Homo sapiens: one gene and its partners. The protein of the gene in region 2 binds, or shares a complex with, the protein of the main gene of each other region. Each region holds a gene or a part of one and is shown on either strand. Other genes may lie near its edges. A codon is read from its position in the direction of its gene.

What was found. Proteins that work in one complex are often made in the same cells at the same time.
Region 1: the proteins of MED24 (region 2) and MED16 are in contact, whole or in part, in a cryo-EM structure (PDB 7EMF), measured with the Homo sapiens proteins. Residues at the interface, in NP_055630.2 of Homo sapiens: Ile539 (codon at 3,479), Leu540 (codon at 3,482), Asn541 (codon at 3,485), His544 (codon at 3,494), Pro545 (codon at 3,497), Glu593 (codon at 3,750), Arg629 (codon at 4,173), Met630 (codon at 4,176), Leu631 (codon at 4,179), Gly632 (codon at 4,182), Leu633 (codon at 4,185), Asp634 (codon at 4,188), Glu635 (codon at 4,191), Asp676, Gln679, Gln680, Thr681, Ala682, Pro702, Pro703, Lys704, Arg705, Pro706, Ile707, Lys708, Glu709, His737, Met738, Gly739, Gly740; in NP_005472.2 of Homo sapiens: His29, Cys30, Pro31, Ser32, Arg52, Asp54, Asp55, Gln56, Glu82, Asp102, Val126, Glu127, Gly128, Asp129, Pro130, Val184, Ser185, Leu187, Thr203, Glu204, Ser205, Cys207, Arg208, Leu209, Arg210, Gly211, Arg212, Asp232, Gly233, Ser234.
Region 3: the proteins of MED24 (region 2) and MED23 are in contact, whole or in part, in a cryo-EM structure (PDB 7EMF), measured with the Homo sapiens proteins. Residues at the interface, in NP_055630.2 of Homo sapiens: Lys238, Thr239, Leu280, Leu283, Lys287, Val291, Glu295, Cys336, Glu339, Phe340, Lys343, Leu344, Thr345, Pro346, Leu347, Asp349, Lys350, Gln353, Lys384, Glu720, Lys721, Trp723, Thr756, Arg757, Lys758, Glu759, His760, Met802, Asp803, Pro804; in NP_004821.2 of Homo sapiens: Asn150, Thr151, Val152, Ser153, Ser154, Glu193, Gly194, Leu196, Pro197, Trp199, Leu201, Gly202, Asn203, Ser206, Asp207, Asp210, Arg213, Tyr258, Asp259, Lys260, Phe263, Ser1133, Arg1139, Ser1176, Glu1180, Glu1182, Trp1183, Val1184, Tyr1186, Arg1189.

What each region holds. Positions count from the first base shown.
Region 1 is NC_000019.10:869,184-876,204, reverse strand, and holds part of MED16 (mediator of RNA polymerase II transcription subunit 16), read left to right. Parts: intron 1-750; coding exon 751-961; intron 962-2,622; coding exon 2,623-2,756; intron 2,757-4,086; coding exon 4,087-4,279; intron 4,280-4,951; coding exon 4,952-5,168; intron 5,169-7,021. UniProt on the Homo sapiens protein: Component of the Mediator complex, a coactivator involved in the regulated transcription of nearly all RNA polymerase II-dependent genes.
Region 2 is NC_000017.11:40,023,408-40,030,428, reverse strand, and holds part of MED24 (mediator of RNA polymerase II transcription subunit 24), read left to right. Parts: intron 1-569; coding exon 570-681; intron 682-1,460; coding exon 1,461-1,603; intron 1,604-2,482; coding exon 2,483-2,520; intron 2,521-2,783; exon of another isoform or gene 2,784-2,887; intron 2,888-2,963; coding exon 2,964-3,046; intron 3,047-3,394; coding exon 3,395-3,573; intron 3,574-3,682; coding exon 3,683-3,782; intron 3,783-4,019; exon of another isoform or gene 4,020-4,097; coding exon 4,098-4,273; intron 4,274-7,021. UniProt on the Homo sapiens protein: Component of the Mediator complex, a coactivator involved in the regulated transcription of nearly all RNA polymerase II-dependent genes.
Region 3 is NC_000006.12:131,597,239-131,604,259, forward strand, and holds part of MED23 (mediator of RNA polymerase II transcription subunit 23), read right to left. Parts: coding exon 6,940-7,021; intron 5,967-6,939; coding exon 5,792-5,966; intron 5,144-5,791; coding exon 4,980-5,143; intron 2,925-4,979; coding exon 2,800-2,924; intron 2,273-2,799; coding exon of another isoform or gene 2,267-2,272; exon of another isoform or gene 2,229-2,266; intron 1,524-2,228; coding exon 1,318-1,523; intron 1,230-1,317; coding exon 1,049-1,229; intron 1-1,048. UniProt on the Homo sapiens protein: Required for transcriptional activation subsequent to the assembly of the pre-initiation complex. Component of the Mediator complex, a coactivator involved in the regulated transcription of nearly all RNA polymerase II-dependent genes.

The sequences.
Region 1 (7,021 bases), on a different chromosome or scaffold from region 2:
TCTGAGCTTCACTTGTTTTCCTCTGTGCCATCAGAAACCAATACGAAGATAAAATGGGAAAAAAAAAATCCCATTCACGGCACAGCCTGCCGAGAAACGCGTGAGACCCAGGCGGGGGCTGCGAGGCTAAACCCCAGCGTGGCTGGGATCCGTAGCCAGTGACAGCGCTAGTGATGGCGAGACCTCGCCCTCTCCCTCCTTGGGCCGTCGCTGTGTGCCAAGCGTTTCATTTTTGTTTTTAGTTGTTTCTATTTTTTGTAGAGATGGGGTGTCCTACGTTGCACAGGCTCTCCAACTCCCAGCCTCCAGGAATCCTCCAGCCTCAGCCTCCCAAAATGCTTCAGCTCATTCATTCATTCTCTCTAGACCAGGGTCTCCCCGTAGGCACCACAGACATCGGGGGCTGGAGCAGCCTCTGGGATGGGGGTGTCCTGTTGAGCAGCCTCCCCAGCCTCCACCCGTTACTTGGCAGGGGCACCCCCAGTGGTGACAACTAAAAATATCTCCAGACATCACCAGGGGCCCCCACCAGAGGCAGAGCCGCTCCCAGCTGAGAACCCAGCACCTGGTCCTGTGCGCCTGGTCTTCCGCACCTGTTTTGCCATGAGGTTGCTGAGGTGCAGAGGCGAAGCAGCTTGCCCAGCTGACCGAGCGCCTGGTGTCAGAGTCGAACTGCTCTTCTCCTCAGCTGGAGCCTTGGCGGGCGCCTCTGCTCCGGCCCCTTGGGGTGACCTGGCTTCCTGCCCTCAGGTCCTCTCCACCCGGATCCTGGCCATGAAGGCCTCGCTCTGCAAGCTGTCGCCCTGCACGGTGACCCGCGTGTGCGACTACCACACCAAGCTCTTCCTCATCGCCATCAGCTCCACCCTGAAGTCGCTGCTGCGCCCCCACTTTCTCAACACGCCTGACAAGAGCCCCGGCGACCGGCTGACCGAGATCTGCACCAAGATCACCGACGTCGGTGGGTCCTTTTCCACGCCCGGGGCCTCGAGGTTTCTTTCATCTATTTATTTTATTTTTATTTATTTTTTTTACTCTTTTGAGATAGGGTCTTACTCTGTTGCCCAGGCTGGAGTGCAGTGGTGCGATCTCAGCTCACTGCAGCCTCCGCCTCTCTGGTTCAAGTGATTCTCCTGCCTCAGCCTCCCAAGTAGCTGGGATTACAGGCACGTGCCACCACGCCCGGCTGATTTTTTGTATTTTTAGTAGAGACGGGGTTTCACCATGTTGGCCAGGCTGGTCTCGAACTCTTGACCTCAAATGATCCGCCCGCCTCGGCCTCCTAAAGTGCTGGGATATAGCCTAAAGGCTGGGATTACACCACACCCAGGCTTTTAGAGACGGTCTCACTGTGTCATCCAGGTTGCAGCACGGTGACGCAGTCCCAGCTCAGCGCAGCCTCTGCCTTCTGGGCTCAAGCAATCTCGCCTCAGCCTCTGGAGTAGCTGGGATTACAGACACGTGCCACCACACCCGGTTTTTAATTTTTTGTAGCAACAGGGTCTCACTGTGTTGCCCAGGCTGGTCTTGACCACCTGAGCTCAAGCGATCCTTTCACCTCTCTCTACTCCTGGGGGCTGAGACGCTCCCAGGCCGACACCCGGCACCCGGGTCCTGTGCAGGCAGGTCTGCTCCTCCTTCCGTTTTGCCGTAAGGGGACTGAGGCAGAAAGGCTAAGCAGCTTGCCCAGGCTCACCCAGCACGTGGTGTCCTACTCGCCTCTGCCTCCCAAAGCGCTGGGATTACAGGCGTGAGCCACTGTGCCTGGCAGGCTGTTTCTTTTAAAAATTAGGGTTGCTGGGCGTGGCGACTCGTGTGTAATCCCAGCACTTTGGGAGGCCAACGCGGGCTGATCACGAGGTCAGGAGATCGAGATCATCCTGGCTAACACGGTGAAACCCCGTCTCTACTAAAAATACAAAAATCAGCCGGGCGTGGTGGCGGGCGCCTGTAGTCCCAGCTACTCGGGAGGCTGAGGCAGGAGAATGGCGTGAACCCGGGAGGCGGAGCTTGCAGTGAGCTGAGATCACCCCACTGCACTCCAGCCTGGGCGACAGAGTGAGACTCTGTCTCAAAAAAAAAATTTAGGGTTATCGTTTGTCTGGAGTACCCGGTTGAGTGTGGACACGTGGCACTCCTGGTAGCTGGGAGCCGTGTGCACAGTCATGGTTAGTTCTGTGGGACCACCCTAGTCACCATCCGAGAGGCATCTGTTGGGTGTGTAACCGCCGCCAGCTGCCAGCCGGGGGTGGCTGCAGCTGCACGCTGTGGACATGCCCCTGTGTTCACAGAGTTCACCTCGGAGCAGGGGGCAGATGTGCACCAGCAGGCCGGGCCTGAGCACTGGTGGCCCTGGCATGGGGACCTGCCCACGCCAAGGCCTGCAGGCCGAGAGAAGCTGGTTGGTGCTGAGCACAGCGGCCCCCGGGGGGGGGCAGGCAGTGGGCTCCCAGTTCCTCTCCGTCCGGCAACGCCATCGCCCCCTTCTCGTTCCCGGTGTGGGTCCCCTTGTGTCCTGGTACTGGGTGGGCACTCAGTGCAGGTCGAAGGACCGAGGGGTGCAGTTAGGTCACCCTGTGTGTACAAGAGGCCCGAGCTGACCCGACCCACGTCTCCTTGTAGACATTGACAAGGTCATGATCAACCTCAAGACGGAGGAATTTGTGCTGGACATGAACACACTGCAGGCGCTGCAGCAGCTCTTGCAGTGGGTGGGCGACTTCGTGCTGTACCTGCTGGCCAGCCTACCCAACCAGGTGCGCCATGCTCTCCCCTAAGGCCCCGCCCCCCACCTGGGCCCCCATCTCATCAGGACCCCGCTTCCCTGCCCCTGCCCCTCAAAACCACCTCAGCCCCGCCCCTAGTTGGAGTCCCGCCCCTACTTGGAGTCCCGCCCCTACTTGGAGTCCCGCCCCTGCTTGGAGTCCCACCTCAGCCCCGCCCCTGGTTGGAGTCCCACCCCTACTTGGAGTCCCACTTCCTGAGTCTGTCTCTTCTTAAACCCCCACTTCCTAGCCCTGCCCCACTTCCTAGCCCTGCCCCACTTCCTAGCCCTGCCCCACCTCGGAGCCCTGCCCCATCTCGGAGCCCTGCCCCACCTCGGAGCCCTCCCCCACCTCGGAGCCCTCCCCCACCTCGGAGCCCTGCCCCACCTCGGAGCCCTGCCCCACCTCGGAGCCCTGCCCCACCTCGGAGCCCTCCCCCACCTCGGAGCCCTCCCCCACCTCGGAGCCCTGCCCCACCTCGGAGCCCTCCCCCACCTCGGAGCCCTCCTCTCCATGAAGCCTCTGCTGTAAGAAGCCTTTCCTTGGCCACACCCTTCCTGCCCATTCTCAAAGCCCCGCCTCCCAGGCCCTGCTCCTTCTCAGCCCCACCCCTACACGAAGGCCGGTTCGCCTTGCTTCTGCTGCTGCTGCCCCCACCCCTTACCCTCCCCAGCTCCCTGCGCCTGGGGTGGGCGGCCTTGAAATCAAGTCTCCATCCACACCTCCACCTTCAGTTCTGCGGCTTGTGCGCCCCTGACCAGGGCTCCAACCTCGCCCCCACCCCCCCGCCGGTACACTCTGTCCTGCCCCAGCTGTGATTTCTTCTGCCCCACCCACCCGGCTTCATCCTGCCCTGGGGCCCGCCCTTCTCCACCGCGCCCATCACGGACGGTTTGAAGTCCCTCTCTTCTTTTTGTGGGGCTTTAGGCTGCCAGGGGCCACCCCTGGGGCCTCCCTTCCCTGGTCCTCTCAGCTCCCAGTACAGTCACCAGGGGCCCGGGCCCGCAGCTGTAGGAGGGGGCGGCTGCTCCTCCACGTGCAGGTGGGGATATTGGCCTCAGCCAGAGCCTCGTCTTAGTCTTGTGGACTCTCAGGGATGGGACGACTCTGCAAATGGGGCTGTCCTGGGCCCTGCAGGGCTCTGAGCAGCGTCCCCGGCATCCACCCACTCGGTGCCAGAAGCACCCCAGTCCTGACCACCACAAATGTCCCAGACCCTGCCCATTGCCCCCCGGTCGGGGTTCCACCGACCCCAAGACACTTCATCCCATCGCCATCTGCCCCCCGCCGCCCCAGCCACACCGATGCCTCTTTCGGGCAGGGTTCCCTGCTGAGGCCGGGCCACAGCTTTCTGCGGGACGGCACCTCGCTGGGCATGCTTCGGGAATTGATGGTGGTCATCCGCATCTGGGGCCTTCTGAAGCCCAGCTGCCTGCCCGTGTATACGGCCACCTCGGATACCCAGGACAGCATGTCCCTGCTCTTCCGCCTGCTCACCAAGCTCTGGATCTGCTGTGAGGCACCCCCGCCCGCCCCTCCCCTCTCCCCGCTCCCCGCTCTCCCCTCTCCCCGCTCCCCGCTCCCCGCTCTCCCCTCTCCCCGCTCTCCCCTCTCCCCGCTCTCCCCTCTCCCCGCTCTCCCTTCTCCCCGCTCTCCCCTCTCCCCTCTCCCCGCTCCCCTCTCCCTACCAAAACACAAGTCCTGCCTGAGCCCCCCGCCAGAACATAAGCCCCTGCAGGTGGCAGTGGCTCTGCCTTGATATCTGCTATTTCCCCAGTTCCTAGCACAGGTCCATGCTCTGTGTGGGTGCTTTTGGGATGGCAGCCACTTCCAGGCACCTGTTTGCTGTCTCTCCTTGTCGGGTTGTGTGTATGTGAGGAGGGTGAGCTGTGTCATTCTTACATCCCAGTGTCTGGAAAAGGCACAGTGCTTCCCACATACTTTTTAAGTGAATGAGGGAGTCTCATGACAGGCCAGAGACGGGGAGAGAACTCTGGGGTCACCCAGCCAGGCAGGCAGAGCCGGGGCCCCGACCTGGTGAGAGAACCCCGGGGTCACCCAGCCAGGCAGACAGAGCTGGGGCCCTGACCTGGTGCTCCTGAACTGGAGGGGCTCCCAGCACGTCCCGGGTGGCCGGGCGGTGCCCCAGTCAGGGGTGCTGAGACTTCCGCCACCTCTCTCCGCAGGTCGCGATGAGGGCCCAGCGAGCGAGCCGGACGAGGCGCTGGTGGATGAATGCTGCCTGCTGCCCAGCCAGCTGCTTATCCCCAGCCTGGACTGGCTGCCAGCCAGCGACGGCCTGGTTAGCCGCCTGCAGCCCAAGCAGCCCCTTCGTCTGCAGTTTGGCCGGGCGCCCACGCTGCCTGGCAGTGCTGCCACCCTGCAGCTCGACGGCCTCGCCAGGTGCGTGTGTCCCTGCATTGGTCCCCAAACACAGGACTCCTTCCTCCGTGTCCTGCCCCGGGACCCCCGAATCCACACGGCTCCCTCCCTGCATGTCCTGCCCCAGGTCCCCCCGAATCCACACGGCTCCCCGCCTCCATGTCCTGCCCGGGACCCCCCGAATCCACACGGCTCCCTCCCTCCATGTCCTGCCCCGGGACCCCCCGAATCCACACGGCTCCCTCCCTCCATGTCCTGCCCCGGGTCCCCCCGAATCCACACGGCTCCCTCCCTCCATGTCCTGCCCCAGGACCCCCCCGAATCCATACGGCTCCTTCCCTCCATGTTCTCCAGTCATGGCCATGACTGCTGCTTCCTTCTAGGTGCCCCTAACTCCATCCCCTAGTGGTGTCTTCTGCTGTGTCACGAACCACCCCCAACACGGGCACCCAGCCCTTCCATTCACCCTCTCCCTTTTTTTTTTTTTTTTTGTCTCCCCGACAGGGTCTCACTCTGTTGCCCAGGCTGGAGTGCAGTAGTGCCGTCTTGGCCCACTGCAACGTCTGCCTCTCGGGTTCAAATGATTCTCCTACCTCAGCCTTCCCAGTAGCTGGGATTACAGGCATGAGCCACCACACCTAGGTATTTTTTGTATTTTTGGTATAGAGGCGGTTTTGCAATGTTGGCCAGGCTGGTCTTGAACTCCTGACCTCAGGTGATCCACCTGCCTCGCCCTCCCAAAGTGCTGGGATTACAGGTGTGAGCCACCGCCCCGGCCTTGCCTTGGTGTTTCCTGATTGTGTGTTGGCCTCGCTGTACAGGGCGCCCTGCCTTAGCCTCTGCCCTTAGTCTCTGGCCCCCCTGGATGTCAGGCCTCGCCGTAGATCCCTCTGTGGATGGAGAGAGACGCCTTAGCATATGGCCCAGGGCCCTGCTGAGCAGACACCTCATCAGGAGGATCTCCCGGGGGCAAGAGGTCACCTTGCAGGGCCCGGGGCTGGCCTTTCTCTGGAATGTGCGGGGTTTGGGCAACCCAAGTGTGCTGAGCTGACCCTGGCTGCCCAGCAGCCCTGTGAGGTGGGACCTTGTCACCCCATTTCACGGTGAGGAAACCCAGCCTGGAAAGGGTGGGACCTTGTCACCCCACTCATCTGGGGTCACGCGGTCAGGAAGTGGCCGAGTCAGGATTTGAACCCAGGCCCGTCAGACCCCCAGCCTGTTTCAGACACACGTTTGACAAGGAGCACATGCAAACCCTCTGAGCCACTGATTGCTCAGGGCTGGAATTTTAGAAAACACAGATGAGCAAAAGGAAGAAAATGAAGTGAACCTCCAGCAGCCCTGCTCCGGGGAAGGCCCCGGCTCGGCTCCAGGACCTCCAGGGAAGGCACCCCCGGCTTGGCTCCGGGACCTCCGGGAAGGCGCCCTGGCTTGGCTCTAGGACCTCCAGCATTTTCTTCCTCGTGCTCACTGTGGGAGGGGCCTCCTAATGAGTCACACACGAGGGTTTGGGTTTCAGGAAAAGACTTGATGGAAAGAGAGGACGGTTACGTCAGAGGCTTGTAAACTGGGAAAATTTCAGATATTTAATGAGAGCAGAATAAGCCGGCCCACCCCCACCCAGACCCAGGTCCCCCACCCACCACCGAGGGCAGCTTTTGCCACCAGAATCTTGTCGTTCAGAGGTCCCGGCACCTCCAGGCCGGGTGTCTGGGCAGAGGTGGTGTGGAAGTCCCCATGTACCTGCTTCTGTCCAGCCTCAAATGGGAGCGTCACAAGCACCTTCCCTGCACCTCAGGCTCCCCGGGCACGTGGCGGACCGACCCTCGTCCCTGTGTGGGCCCCGTCCCCTTTACTGGGTCTCTAAGCCTCAA
Region 2 (7,021 bases):
AGCTACTCAGGAGGCTGAGGCAGGAGAATCACTTGAACCCGGAAAGCAGAGGTTGTACTGAGCTGAGATCGCGCCACTGCATTCCAGCCTGGGTGACAGAGCGAGACTCTGTCTCAAAAAAAAAAAAGACTAATGATAAATTGCCAGGTGTGCTGGCTCACCTGTAATCCCAGGACTTTGGGAAGCCAAGGTGGGTGGATCACCTGAGGTCAGGAGTTTGAGACCAGTAGAACATGGTGAAACCCCGTCTCTACTAAAAATACAAAAAAGTAGCCAGGCGTGGTGGTGAGCGCCCAGCTACTCTGGAGGCAGAGGCTGCAGTGAGCCGAGATCGTGCCACTGTACTCCAGCCTGGGCAACAGAGTGAGACCTGTCTCAAAAAAAAAGACTAATGCTAAATCAGTGATTGCAACATTGACTATGCTTCCATAAACTTCACCCCAACCTCGGAGGTTCTTACATGCTTCCCACCTCCTCTGCGCATTTCCTTCCGGGCTTGAACGAGGGAACGTGTCAAGAATTTCTCTTCATTCCTCTTCCCTTCCTTGGCCAACTGGTGATGTCCACAGCAAAGCGGACCGAGAGCACGCACCCCAGCAGAAATCGGGAGAGAATGCCAACATCCAGCCCAACATCCAGCTGATCCTCCGGGCGGAGCCCACTGTCACAAACATCCTCAAGGTGAGTGTGCCCTTCCCTGGCCACCACAGTCTTCTCTTTCTTCTTTCCAGTGCTCCATCTGCTTGCAGATAAATAAACAGAGGCCACAGACCTCTGTCTCCTTTAGCTTTTATACATAGTTGCTTTGGAGGTAGTGAAAGGGGAGGCAAGGGCAGCTACCACTGAATGCTAACCCGTGGGAGCTTCATTTGTACACCAGGCACTGCAGTAGGCGCTTTCACTTAGGCCATCTCACATGGAAACAACAGAGACGTGGGTGCGGTGGCTCACGCCTGTAATCCCAGCATTTTGGGAGGCTGAGGTGGGAAGATCCCTTGAGGTCAGGAGTTTGAGACCAGCTTGGCCAGCGTGGTGAAACCCAGTCTCTACTAAAAACACAAAATTCACTGGGTGTGGTGGTGCATGCCTGTAATCCCAGTTACTTGGGAGGCTGAGGCAGGAGAATCGCTGAACCCTGGGGGGCAGAGGTTGCAGTGAGCCAAGATCGCACCACTGCACTCCAGCCTCAGCGATAGAGCGAGACTCTGTCTAAAAAAGGAAAGGACAGAGAAGATCCTAGCCGTGACCTTGCCCACTCCAACCTTACCACCTGCATGCCAGTGTAGATGAGAGGGATGGATCGGAGAGCAGGGGTGGGTTTTAGGAATGATTTTCCAGATTGAAGTCAGAAAGATGTAGATTACATTCCAGGTTGTGAAGAGAGAAAATGTGGCTAGGCTGTATCTTGGGTGGGGGGTCTTCAGTGTTCTTCAGGACTTGATTTCCTGTCCTGTCCCCAGACGATGGATGCAGACCACTCTAAGTCACCGGAGGGACTGCTGGGAGTCCTGGGCCACATGCTGTCCGGGAAGAGTCTGGACTTGCTGCTGGCTGCCGCCGCCGCCACTGGAAAGCTGAAATCCTTCGCCCGGAAATTCATCAAGTGAGGAAGGCCAAGCCCCTGACCCCAGGGCGTGCAGGGAGGCTGCGCGTTGGGAGGAGGTAGCAGGGTAGGAGTCAGGTGCCTGGGTCTGGGTCTCATCCAGAGACCCACGGGCCTAGGCAGAGCATCCTGGCTGGAGATCTTGGAGGAAGGGCCTGTTCTCACGACCTAAGTGTTCCTTTCTCTTCAGCTGAGGATGGAGTGGACATGTTTGGTAAAGAGATGAGGGTAAGGGTTGAGGTGTTGAACATTGGGCATGGAGGAATTCCAAGTATGCCCAGTTATTAATAAGGGGCTCTCAAATTCTGTTGCCTTTTTTGATTGCCCTGGAATTTGACATATATAGAACATGGTTCCATTCAGTGAGCCATTCTCTAGGCCTTGGAAATCTTCTAACAATAAAAATCCTTCTGGCCGGGTGCGGTGGCTCACGCCTGTAATCCTAGCACTTAGGGAGGCCAAGGTGGGCGGATCACCTGAGGTCAGGAGTTCAAGACCGGCCTGGCCAACTTGGTGAAACCCTGTCTCTACTAAAAATACAAAAAATTAGCCGGGTGTGGTGGCGGGCACCTGTAATCCCAGCTACTTGGGAGACTGAGGCAGAAGAATTGCTTGAACAGAGGCGGAGGTTGCAGTGAGCTGAGATTGTGCCACTGCACTCCAGCCTGGGTGACAGAGCGAGACTCTTTCTCAAAAAAAACAAAAAAAAAACAAAAAACAAAAACCACAAAAACCTTTTTTCTATAGCAATGTGTCTCATTTTAAGTTTAACCAGTAACTCAGACTCTAGCTATCGCTCTCTGAACATGTGTAGCCCCAGCGCCCAGCTACTGCTCAGCTCATGCCCTGGTCAATGCAGCCTGTCTCCATTCCTTTCAGTTTGAATGAATTCACAACCTATGGCAGCGAAGAAAGCAGTAAGTCAGCCCTGTGCATCCGCAGGCCCAGTGGGCCCTGAGGAGGGGTGTGGCGGGAGAGTGTGGGAGGGAGGAGGGCTCCCCAGCTCAACAGGGGGAGGCTGTGCTCCCTCCTCAGAGCCATGACCAATGGAAGCTTCCACAGAGCTTGAAAGTGGATAATGCTGGAAAAGGATTCTTCCCAGACCATCCCTGTGTCTCCTTCCCCCCCTCATCCCTTTACGACTTGGTTAGGTATGCCAGGAGAGGGTGCTGGGGGTCTTTGGTCTCAAGGAAGGGATGATGTTCCAGTTGAGACTCAAGAAAAGGATTCTGAGCCTCAGAGCTTTGAAGGAGCCACTTGGTCCCTGACCTTCCTAGAGGCAAATCCCGATCCCTGTCAACCCAGACACGGGCTCCCCCCTGCCCTCGTCTGGGAGCTCAGCCTTCCCGTCCTTCCACAGCCAAACCGGCCTCCGTCCGGGCCCTGCTGTTTGACATCTCCTTCCTCATGCTGTGCCATGTGGCCCAGACCTATGGTTCAGAGGTGAGAGAGGGGAGCGACCGGGACGGGGGCTCAAGGGAAGGAGGTAACCCGGAACTCTCCCCACCTCACTGCCTGCGCCCCCGCAGCCTCTCAGCCAGTTAGTTCTGTGGGCCTCAGAAACCAGGTGCCCACCCGGGCTGGAGTCCGTAGAGGCACCTTCAGCCCTATGTTCACATTGACCACTAGGTGGCAGCATTGCCCCCGTCTGGCTCCCTTAGACCAGTTCGTCCCCAGTCTTTGGGCTGGGCTGGAGCAGCAGCCTGGCGGGAAACAGTGCAGCCCCAGGTCCAGCGCTGGCAGGCGCCGCGCCCTCCCCACTCGGCTGGTGCCCCCCTTCCCCTTTCCCAGGTGATTCTGTCCGAGTCGCGCACAGGAGCTGAGGTGCCCTTCTTCGAGACCTGGATGCAGACCTGCATGCCTGAGGAGGGCAAGATCCTGAACCCTGACCACCCCTGCTTCCGCCCCGACTCCACCAAAGTGGAGTCCCTGGTGGCCCTGCTCAACAACTCCTCGGAGATGAAGCTAGTGTCAGTGGCCCGGGCGCCCACTCCAAGGGTGGCGGTGGGGGCAGGGTCAAGACCCGCTCCCTGAGCCCGTTCCTTGCTCCCCTGTGCTGACTTCTCTGCACACCCGCAGGCAGATGAAGTGGCATGAGGCCTGTCTCAGCATCTCAGCCGCCATCTTGGAAATCCTCAATGCCTGGGAGAATGGGGTCCTGGCCTTCGAGTCCATCCAGGTAGCCCCGCCTTCCCAGCAGCGTTTGCTCCCCTGAGACACAGAGCCAGCCAGTGATGACTTGTTATATTTCGTAAGGGCAAGAAGACCTTTAATCCAGGAGCTCATGTTTTGATATTGATATTTTGTGTAATCGTTGTCTTAGCTACTCCCTCTGGCCCAGGTAGCTCTGGGAAGATCAAACTTGTGGAGAGAGGTGTGGAATGTGGCCCGGGACTCCACCCGCTGCACTTAGCTGCCCGCAGAGGCTGAGAAGGTGATGTTGGCTCAAGAAAGGGAGATAGATGGTAGCCCATCACCTTTCCGTCTCCCCTAGAAAATCACTGATAACATCAAAGGGAAGGTATGCAGTCTGGCGGTGTGTGCTGTGGCTTGGCTTGTGGCCCACGTCCGGATGCTGGGGCTGGATGAGCGTGAGAAGTCGCTGCAGATGATCCGCCAGCTGGCAGGGCCACTGTTTAGTGAGAACACCCTGCAGTTCTACAATGAGAGGTCGGTAACCTGCCTTCCCTTCTCAGACCCTTCAAGTGTGTTGTGAGAAGTCAGCACATCCAATAACAAGCACCCCTCTCTTTTCTGACCTTCGCAAACACGCTACTTGATCACTCACTCACTTTCCTATTCATGCATTCACTCATCTGACTCAGCAAACATGTACTGTGTCTCTGTGGCAGAAGCGTTTATATGCCAGCACCTGCTGTGTTGTCAGAAATGCAGACCCTAAACAGGGTCTGCCCGCAGAGACTCAAGTTCTAGACAACTAGCTCCCAAAAGAACAAAGCTGTGTGACTGTCTAGGAGCTAGGAACCTGTCTGTAGATTTTACAGGCCATGCCCCACCCTCAGTTACCTCTTAGGACAGTTTCCTGCCCTGGCTCTTCAGGGGCTTGGAGGACTTCCCTGGTGACCAGTTACGTTGAGTTCATTCACCCAACCAATAAGTTGTTTGCTTTTTTTAATTGTAAAAAACACATAAGATTTGCCATCTTAGCCATGTTTAAGTGTACTGTTCAGTAGTGTTAAGTATATTCACACTGTTGTGTAACAGGTCTCCAGAACTTTCTTGCATCTCTGAAACTCCATACCCACTGAACAACAGCTTCCTATTTTCCCCTCCCTCCAGCTCCTGGTAACTACCATTTTACTTTGTGTGTCTAGGAATTTGACTACTTTATACTTTTTGTTGTTGTTGTTGTTGAGACAAGGTCTTACCCTTGCCCAGATCAGAGTGAGTCTCACTGCAACCTCAAATTCCTGGGCTCAAGTGATCCTCTCGCCTCAGCCTCCCGAGTAGCTGGGACTGCAGGCCCACAGCCGGCTAATTTTTCTAGTCTTTGTAGAGACAGGGTCTCACTATATTGCCAGGTCTTGAACTCCTGGCCTTGAGTGATCCTCTCACCGTGGTCTCCCAAAGTGCTGGGATTACAGGCGTGACCCACCGTGCCCTGCTGAATTTGACTACTTTTTAGATGCCTCATTTAACTGGAATCATACAGTCCTTGCCTTTTCGTGACTCACTGACTTCACTCAGCATGGTGTCCTCAAAGCTCATCCATGTAGTAGCACGTGACAGGAATTCCTTCCTTTTTAAGGCTGAATAATACTCTGTTGTGGGCCGGGCGTGGTGGCTCACGCCTGCAATCCTAGCACTTTGGGAGGCTGAGGTGAGTGGCTCACTTGAGGTCAGGAGTTTAAGGCCAGCCTGACCAACATGGTGAAACCTTGGCCTTACTAAAAATATAAAAATGAGCAGGGAGTGGTGGCAGGCGCCTGCAATCCCAGCTACTTGGGAGGCTGAGACAGGAGAATTGCTTGAACCCAGGAAGCGGAGGTTGCAGTGAGCCGAGATCACGCCACTGCACTCCAGCCTGGGTGAAAGAGTGAGACTCTGTCTCAAAAAACAAAACAAAAACAAAAGAAACCTCTATTGTGTGGCTATACCACATCTTGATCCCTCCTCTGTCAGTGGACACTTCAGTTGCTTCCACCTTTGGGCTATAGTGAATAGTGCTGCTGTGAACATGGGTGTTTACCAGCTAATACGTTTTGGGTGTTGCCATGTCTTTATGGCAACGTTGAGGATGTCTTTATTTATTTATTTATGTACTTATTTTTGAGACGGCGTTTCGCTCTGTCACCCAGGCTGGAGTGCTGTGGCACTATCTAGGCTCACTGCAATCTCCGCCTCCTGGGTTCAAGAGATTCTCCTGCCTCAGCCTCCCGAGTAGCCGGGATTACAGGCATGTGCCACCACACCCGGCTAATTTTTGTATTTTTGGTAGAGATGGGGTTTCACCATGTTGGCCAGGCTGGTCTCGAACTCCTGATTTCAGGTGATCTTCCCGCCTCAGCCTCCTGAAGTGCTGGGATTATAGGCATGAGCCACCGCACCGGGCCTGAGGATGTCTTAATAGGGAGAAGGGGAAGCATTGAGCTGAATGAGGTTTGGACGGTCTGGAAAAGCACATCTCGTTTTCCCCTTGCCTCCTCCTTTTTTCCTTTCTTCTCTCATTTCTCCACCACCTTCCCCCCCGCCCTACCAAGTAGGGAGCTTTTGCTCTGGTGTAACCCATTCTAAGCACCCTAAATCCTATCTGGGTAAGGGGTAGTGAGAAGTCTGTGGCTCCATTGTGCAGGTGGGAAAAGTGGCTCTAAAGGTCATAGCAACTTTCCCAGAGCCACCCTGCATTCCAGGAACAGTCAGCACTCGGCCCGGGTCTGTATTCACTTCCGAAGCCTCTTTCCATGAGAAAATTCCTGGATATACACTTCTATCTGCCCAGCTACCAGGGGCCGGGAAGAGTCCTGTGGGGCAGCCCTTGGGCCTCTCCTGGAAGGAACAGTTTACTTTGGGAGGAGGCCAGGGCTGGGCGGGGACCCCCAAGCACTCAGCCTAGGGGGAAGTGATTGTGTTTATTTATGTGGCAGGTTGGCAGGGCCCAGGCCTGGGGGATGGGGGAAGTTGGAGAATAAAAGAAAATGTGAATATCTGGCTGGAATGGCCAGGGGGAGGAAAGTCCCTCCCCAGTCCCTATTTATAGGCTTTGTGTCCTGCAGGTGAGAGACCTGCCAGGAGCAGAGCAGGGGCCAGGTCACCCCGGGGTATACCGTCCCCCAGCGCAAAACTGGGTTAATGCCTCAGGGAGATTTCCGTAACCTAAGTCCAAGGGAAAGTCTGGCATGGGTGTTCCCTCCTCTCCCTCCCCACCCTACAGTGGCACCTGAGCCTCAGGTTCTCTCG
Region 3 (7,021 bases), on a different chromosome or scaffold from region 2:
GGCCGAGGCGGGCAGAACACGAGGTCAGGAGATTGAGCCCATCCTGGCTAACACGGTGAAACCCCATCTCTACTAAAAATACAAAAAATTAGCCGGGTGTGGTGGTGGGCACCTGTAGTCCCAGCTACTTGGGAGGCTGAGGCAGGATAATGGCGTGAACCCGGAAGGCAGAGCTTGCAGTGAGCCAACATCACGCCACTGCACTCCAGCCTGGGCGACAGAGAAAGACTCCATATCAAAAAAAAAAAAAAAAAAAAAAGAAAAAAAAAATTCTGCTGGAAATAGACATCAAAGTCAGGAGAAGAAAAAAACATTTGGGGAATGTTTGTTACCAAAGTGTACAGAAATGGTTATATTCGCACTCTGTAAAGAAACACAGTGACTTACTGCTACTTCCTCCCTCTAGTGGGAGTTTTGGAGAATCAACTCAGGGTCTAATTGCTCATATTTTCAAAGTATCACAAGGCTAGGACCACATCTATTTTATTTACTTCTGTACCTTCTATACATAGAACACAGTTGATATTCAATATGTACTTATTAAATGAATGAATAAGGAAATTGGGGCTGGAAGCAGTAGCTCACGCCTGTAATCCCAGCACTTTGGGAAGCTGAAGAGGGAGGATTGCTTCAGCCCAGGAGTTCGAGACCAGCCTGGGCAACATGGAGAAACCCCATCTCTATAAAAAAGTTAAAAAGAAAAAAAACTAGCTGGGTATGGTAGCATATGCCTGTACTCCCAGCTACTCAGGAGGCTGAGGCAGGAGGAGATTGCTTGAGACCAGGAGGTTGAGGCTGCAGTGAGCCATGATCACGCCACTGCACTGGGCGACAGAGCGAGACCCTGTCTCAAAAAACAAACAAAAAAACAAAAACAAACAAAAACAGAAATTGGAAAATTTCCGGCTCTTTAGGGAAGTGACAGCAATGCTTGATATAGTATAAATTCATTAAATCCTTCAAAGCAATATAGAGCAGATTGGCATAACATATATTAGTCATACATCTTGATCTAAGAGAATAAGCTTAGAAATGTATTTATTCTTACCAGGCAGAGAATTAATCTGTCCAGTGTAACAATGTTATACTTCCATACCATGTCATTAAGAATTTCAATGCATTTATTGAGTTGCTGACCCCCTGCTGATGTAGAAAACTCATATACCAGGAAATCTGCAAATGTCCTCACATGGGCTACCAAGGCCCTGGCTCCAATTCTCTCTAATACTCTGGAAGGCAGAGAGTAAAACATAAACTCCATTGTTGTATGGATACAACAATTTGCCAAATGGAATGCAAATTAGGTTTTTGACTTACCTATAGCCAATCTGATTAATATGATCTGTTTCCAAGAGCATTTTCCAGAGAAGACAAAGAAAGAGAGGAGGGGAGCCCTGCATAGAGAAGTGGGTAATAATGTCGTTTTCGTTGCTCATTGACTTCCACTTCCTATACTCCTCCTCCACATTTTTTTTCAGATTAAAACGGCTTTCCTGAGGCACATTATTTTGTTTGAAGAATGCCTAAAAAGAGGATTAGAAGTTTATTTCATTGGTTATAGTAGAAAGAGCACTGGATATGGAGTTAATAAACCAGTTCTAGACTTGATTCTGACACTAATAAACTCTAGGTCACCTTGAGCAACTCAGCAATTAAGGCCTGAATTTCTGTGTCTGGAAAATACATAAGCTTGACTAGATTATCTCCAAGATTCCTTTTCCTAGATTTCCTAAATGGAAATTCTAAGTAAGCCTGAATTCAAAGCTTCTTCAATCATCTGTTGATACTTCCGCCAATCTTAAAAAGAAAAAAAAGAATGAAGTGTCTCTACCCTTTGGCTACATATGTTAGTGTCTTTGAGGAAAATCCATTGCACTAGCCCAGTGATTCTCAGAGTGTGGTCCCAACACCAGCGGTATCAGCATCATCTGGGTCTTACAAGAAATGCAAAATTCTCAGACCTTATCCCAGATTTACTGAATCAGAAGCTCTGTGGCTGGGGGCCCAGCCAACTGCAGCTTAGCAAGCCCTCCAGGTGATTTGGTAAGTTTAAAAACCAAATGCTCTAGCCCTACCAGGAGTTATGAAAAATGGATGTTCATCATGCCTAACATTTTTTCTGAAAAGGAGAAGACAGATGAGGTTTGCCTTTCTCCTTATTAGAAAAGCCAGGTTTACAGTTTTTCTGTGATTAAGAAAAAAATTCAGTGAAGTGTCATATTACGCACACTCTGTGAAGCTCCATTACGTTATACTTCTCCCCATTTCAGTTCTATGAGAGAGAAAAAAGTTTTCAGGTACTATGTTAATTTTCATGAGATTCTAAAACCATTAACTATTTTTTTCTCTTTTTCAATTTTTTTCACTTTTATTTTTTTCCTCTTTCTACTCTTCCTCCCCTTAAAACTGTTAACTAAGATGAAACCATAATAATTAAATTTTTAGAAACATGTCCAGTACCAGAGTAGGACACAGAACAACTTGAGAGATTTTGTAAGTAATGACTTTTTTTTTTTTTTCTACAGACAGGGTCTGGCTCTGTCACCCAGGCTGTGGTACAGTGGTGTGACCATAGTTCCTTGTGAACCTGAATTCCTGGGCTCAAGCCATCCCCCTTGCCTCAGCCTCTCAAGCAGTTAAGACTAGAGGCTTGTGCCACCATGCCCAGCCCCTAAATATTTTTTAAAATAAATAAAAGCTAATTTTATTCAGAAGTCACCAAGACTCACTCTAGAACACCATTGTGAATGGGAAGAAGGATTTCATGTGCATTCAATAAGTAATTCAAGACCAAATTACCTGTAGTGGGCCTGGAAAACAGCTCAGGGTGTGTGAAGCCCAATTATGAGGAGTGAAACTCATGATGGTCTGAAGTATGTCTTTACACCAAGTTCCCTGAATTGAATCAGAGCCTGTAAAAAAATCTAAACATAAACAAATAGATGTAATCCAGATATAAATGATTATATCCACAATTCATAAAAGATTATAGCGAAAATAATAATTATGTACACTGAGAATTTCACTGCAGTGCATTCACTGCTTAACTAGTTATATTCAGCTTAGAACCTAAATTTGCTTAGTTTATGAATGATCTGGATGATCACATTAGAAAATATGAGAACAGTTTATGAAAAGATGACAAAAGACATTTGAAATCTCTTTTTTTGAGGTTACAGAGTACCAGCGATAACAGTAATACAAGCCCATCACTACTGTTCATTTACTTTGACACTGATTTAGTAGTACTTTATTCGGCCAAGGGAACAGAATAAAGAAAGATATCTTTTTTGGTGAGTGAAATAATTACATAATGCATGTATAAATCTCAGAATTGAAGAGGGTTCTTTATGTAAAACAAAATAATTTACATAAACGTATTTGAGGTTGCTAAAACCAATAACTATCTCTTTAAAACATCAGTTCTCAAGTGTGGTCTGTAGACCTCTTGGGGATTCCCCAATAGCCCTTCAAAGATTCAATGAGGTCAAATAATAATAAAAAGATATCAGGCTTTTTCACTTGGTATGAGCACTGACGGTACAAAAGCAATGGTGGTAAAACTGCTGGTCCTAAGCACAAATCAAACAGTGGTGCCAGACTAGATGAAAAGGCTTTGTATTCTCCAGCACATGCACTCAGTGAAAGAAAAGTGCCAGTGTCAATCTCGACACCTATTTTTAACATCATATGTAACAAAAGGGGAAGCATATGCCTAGTGTTCCAAGTTTGATGGGTGTCTTGAGGAAAAACACTTGTGCACTTGTGTGACTGACTGAGCACTGAGTTAAATCAGCTGCTTTTTTTTTTTTGAATTCCAATTTTACTTGAAAGAACGTCTGACAGAAAACTATAGCTAGCTAGACTTACGTATTTAGCAGACATTTTCTTGAAAATTAACAAAATGAGCTTGTCACTTTAAGGAAAACAAATGATAGTAACTTTTTCCAATGATAAAATTTGACCTTTCAAGTAAAAATTGAAATTTTGGAAAACCTGTATCTACCACGACATGATAGCATTCCAAAACTTAGATTTTTCTAATAAACTTTGCAGTGATATTAACAAATGTAATTTTCTGATACTGTATAAACAAAATGTCAACGTTTGCTAGATCTACGTAACTCAGTGAACCAGTATTTTCAAAATGAATAATTCATGAAGTTACAAAACATGCATGGATTTAAAAATCCACTAAATGTATAAAACAGATGTACAGATTATAATGTAACAAAGTACATGAAGTTTACTGGGGGTTTTGGATTCCATATTGCAGCTAACCTTTAAGCAACTATCATTTTTCCATGTGATGTCAAAGAACATTCCCAATTATCTGAAAAAGCTATTAAAATACTCCTCTCTTTCCAACCTCATCTGTGTGAGGCCACATTTTTCACTTACTTCAACTAAAACTTCAATGGATTAAATGTCTAAGCAGATGAGAATCCAAACTATGTCTTCCTTTACACCAGATATTAGAGAAGCAAAAATGTCAAACAATGGCACCTCTTCTCACTAAAGTTTTGCTTTAGAAAATATACTTTTTTTATAACATCATATATTAACATGTAATGTTTATTATTGCTATTTAAAAACAAATTAATAAATATTTTTAAACTTCTTAATTTTAATATCTAATATAATAAATATCCATAGATATAATCCATATAAACAGAAACTCTTTGGGAATTTCAATTTTGTTTTTAAGAGTGTAAAGCAGTCCTGAGACCAAAAAGCTTAAAGTATTACTACTTTAAAATTATGGATAGCTGAAAACGATGCTCAACGCAGTTATTAATAGAATGATGGTACACAAAAGAGCTTCCATAAATGAGTGAAATAGTGAAGATATCAAAACAACAGGCTTTTTTCAAACAAATGAAAAGTATCTTTTTAGTATGTTACAACTATAGTAATTAGTAGAATCATGGCACACTTTAATTCATCTGTTGTTGTTTGTAGTCACATATTCACCGTACCTGTTACATGAGTTGCTCTAGCCAAGGTCAATATCAAGGCTCGGTTCAGTTCTTCAGATTCTGCTGAGAGCACTGTTTTGGGATCACTAAGGAAGCGTGTAAACTGCGGTTGTACCTCTGAGCTACCTAATGCTGTTATAAGCCTGAGAGCAGTGCTCTCGACACTGAAAATTGGGAGAATAAAAAGAAATGTAAAAAAATTTCAGAATTATGGAATTAAATCTAAGGTTAATTACAATGGAAAAACATGCAATCTATGACTATCCCTTCTTTAAAAAAACACTTTTGTGTGAGAATAAATGTTGCTTAATTTGTTTAAAAAACCTAATGTGTCCAATTTTATAGTGAAAATCGTGACTTTTTACACATTTGAAAAAGATGGCTTGTCGCCTATAGGACTAAAAAATTTCACCTGGAGATACTGCATTTCAAAAATTATATTTTTCTATCTAAAATATATTTTAATGTAAAGCAAAATCAATGTGACATGATACTTTAACCATAATCTGAAGTATACTTAAAACCAGCATTCTAAAGGGCTAAGTTACAACATAATAATAAATACCCTGGAAGTACTAATTCTCAGTCCAAAGATCCTGAAGGAAGGACTCAACTATCTTAATCAGTTTCTATTTAAAAAGCTGGACTCTGCTCCTATACTGGAAACAAAATACTTTAGAAGCAGAGAAGTTTTATGACAGATGAATAATAATAAAAAAAAAAACTATAAGGTAAAGGTAAAGGATTAAGAACCTCATCTCCAAGAAAGTTTCTAATAAATCTTAAGGAAAGATGGTCTTCAATGAGCTCACCAAAGATGGAGCTGGTTCTGGTTTGTTTGTGCAACTGCAGCCAAAGTATGAAGATGACTCAGGAGCTGAACTCTGTAATGAGGCTGAATATGATGCATCCGGTAGCTAAACATCTCAAGGAGTGTGTGTAAGATCCCCCATGCATGTGATTTGAAAACAGTTGGCAAAAGCTGACCTGGAGGAAAAAGACAATTTAAGGTACCAATTATTAAAGGCTATGCATGAAAAGATATTTGAAGAAAGTCACATTGAGTAAAATATAAAGATTTGATTGTGAAAATACACACGCCCACACACATATATATTCTCCATATTTTCTTATTTTCTACTTTAACAGTAAGGAAAAATTCAGATCCTAACTATAATATCAAGTTTGCTTTTTTCCTGGGATTTGGCAATTGATAATCATGTTTATCTGGAAAAATAAAATGAGACAAGATATGAAAAAACATTAATCTTCTCAATTCTGATATCTTTTATTTTTAGACAATTAATGTTCCATACCTTTTGAAGTATGAGGTTCACTTTTTAATACAAAAAATTGTATTATACCTGCCCTTGTTTCCTCCTACCCCCAAGAAAGTTTTGTTCAACAATCAGTTATCTAAGAAGAGTTATTGTGGTTAAAATTAAGACTATGCTGTATTCGTGAAAAGCTGGAATTACCATGAATCAGAAAAACACTTCTATATCAGAAAGTATCTATTATTTTAGAACTATATAATAAATGAGACATTATAATGTATCTTCTGCAAGGTAGGAAAATTCCTTCTTTATTTCCAGTCAGACTTCGTATGCACTGGAGGACAGCATTGCTGCCTCAGGCAGAATCCATTTGCATGAGGACAGGGACCAGGTCTATCCTGCTCACTGCATCCCAGGCACCTAGCACATTAACCTTTTCTTACCACTTTACTTAAAAATGCAACAAACCCCCCAACCCTCACACTTCCTATTCCTTTTTGCTTTATTTTTCTCTATAACATGTATCATCTGACATATTGTATATTTCATTTATTTAATGTCCTCCTCCATAAGCTCCATCATGGTGGTGACTTGTTCTCTGCTGTGTCCCCAGGACCTAGAAAAGTAACTTTAGAGTTAATGAATGGGTTAATAGTTATAAACACCAGAAAGTCCTGTCTTACTGATAAATCCTTTGATGCCCAAAGACTCTATTTCCATATAGACCAATAAACGACTGTAAGTTTCCACTAGGGCTGGAGCCAA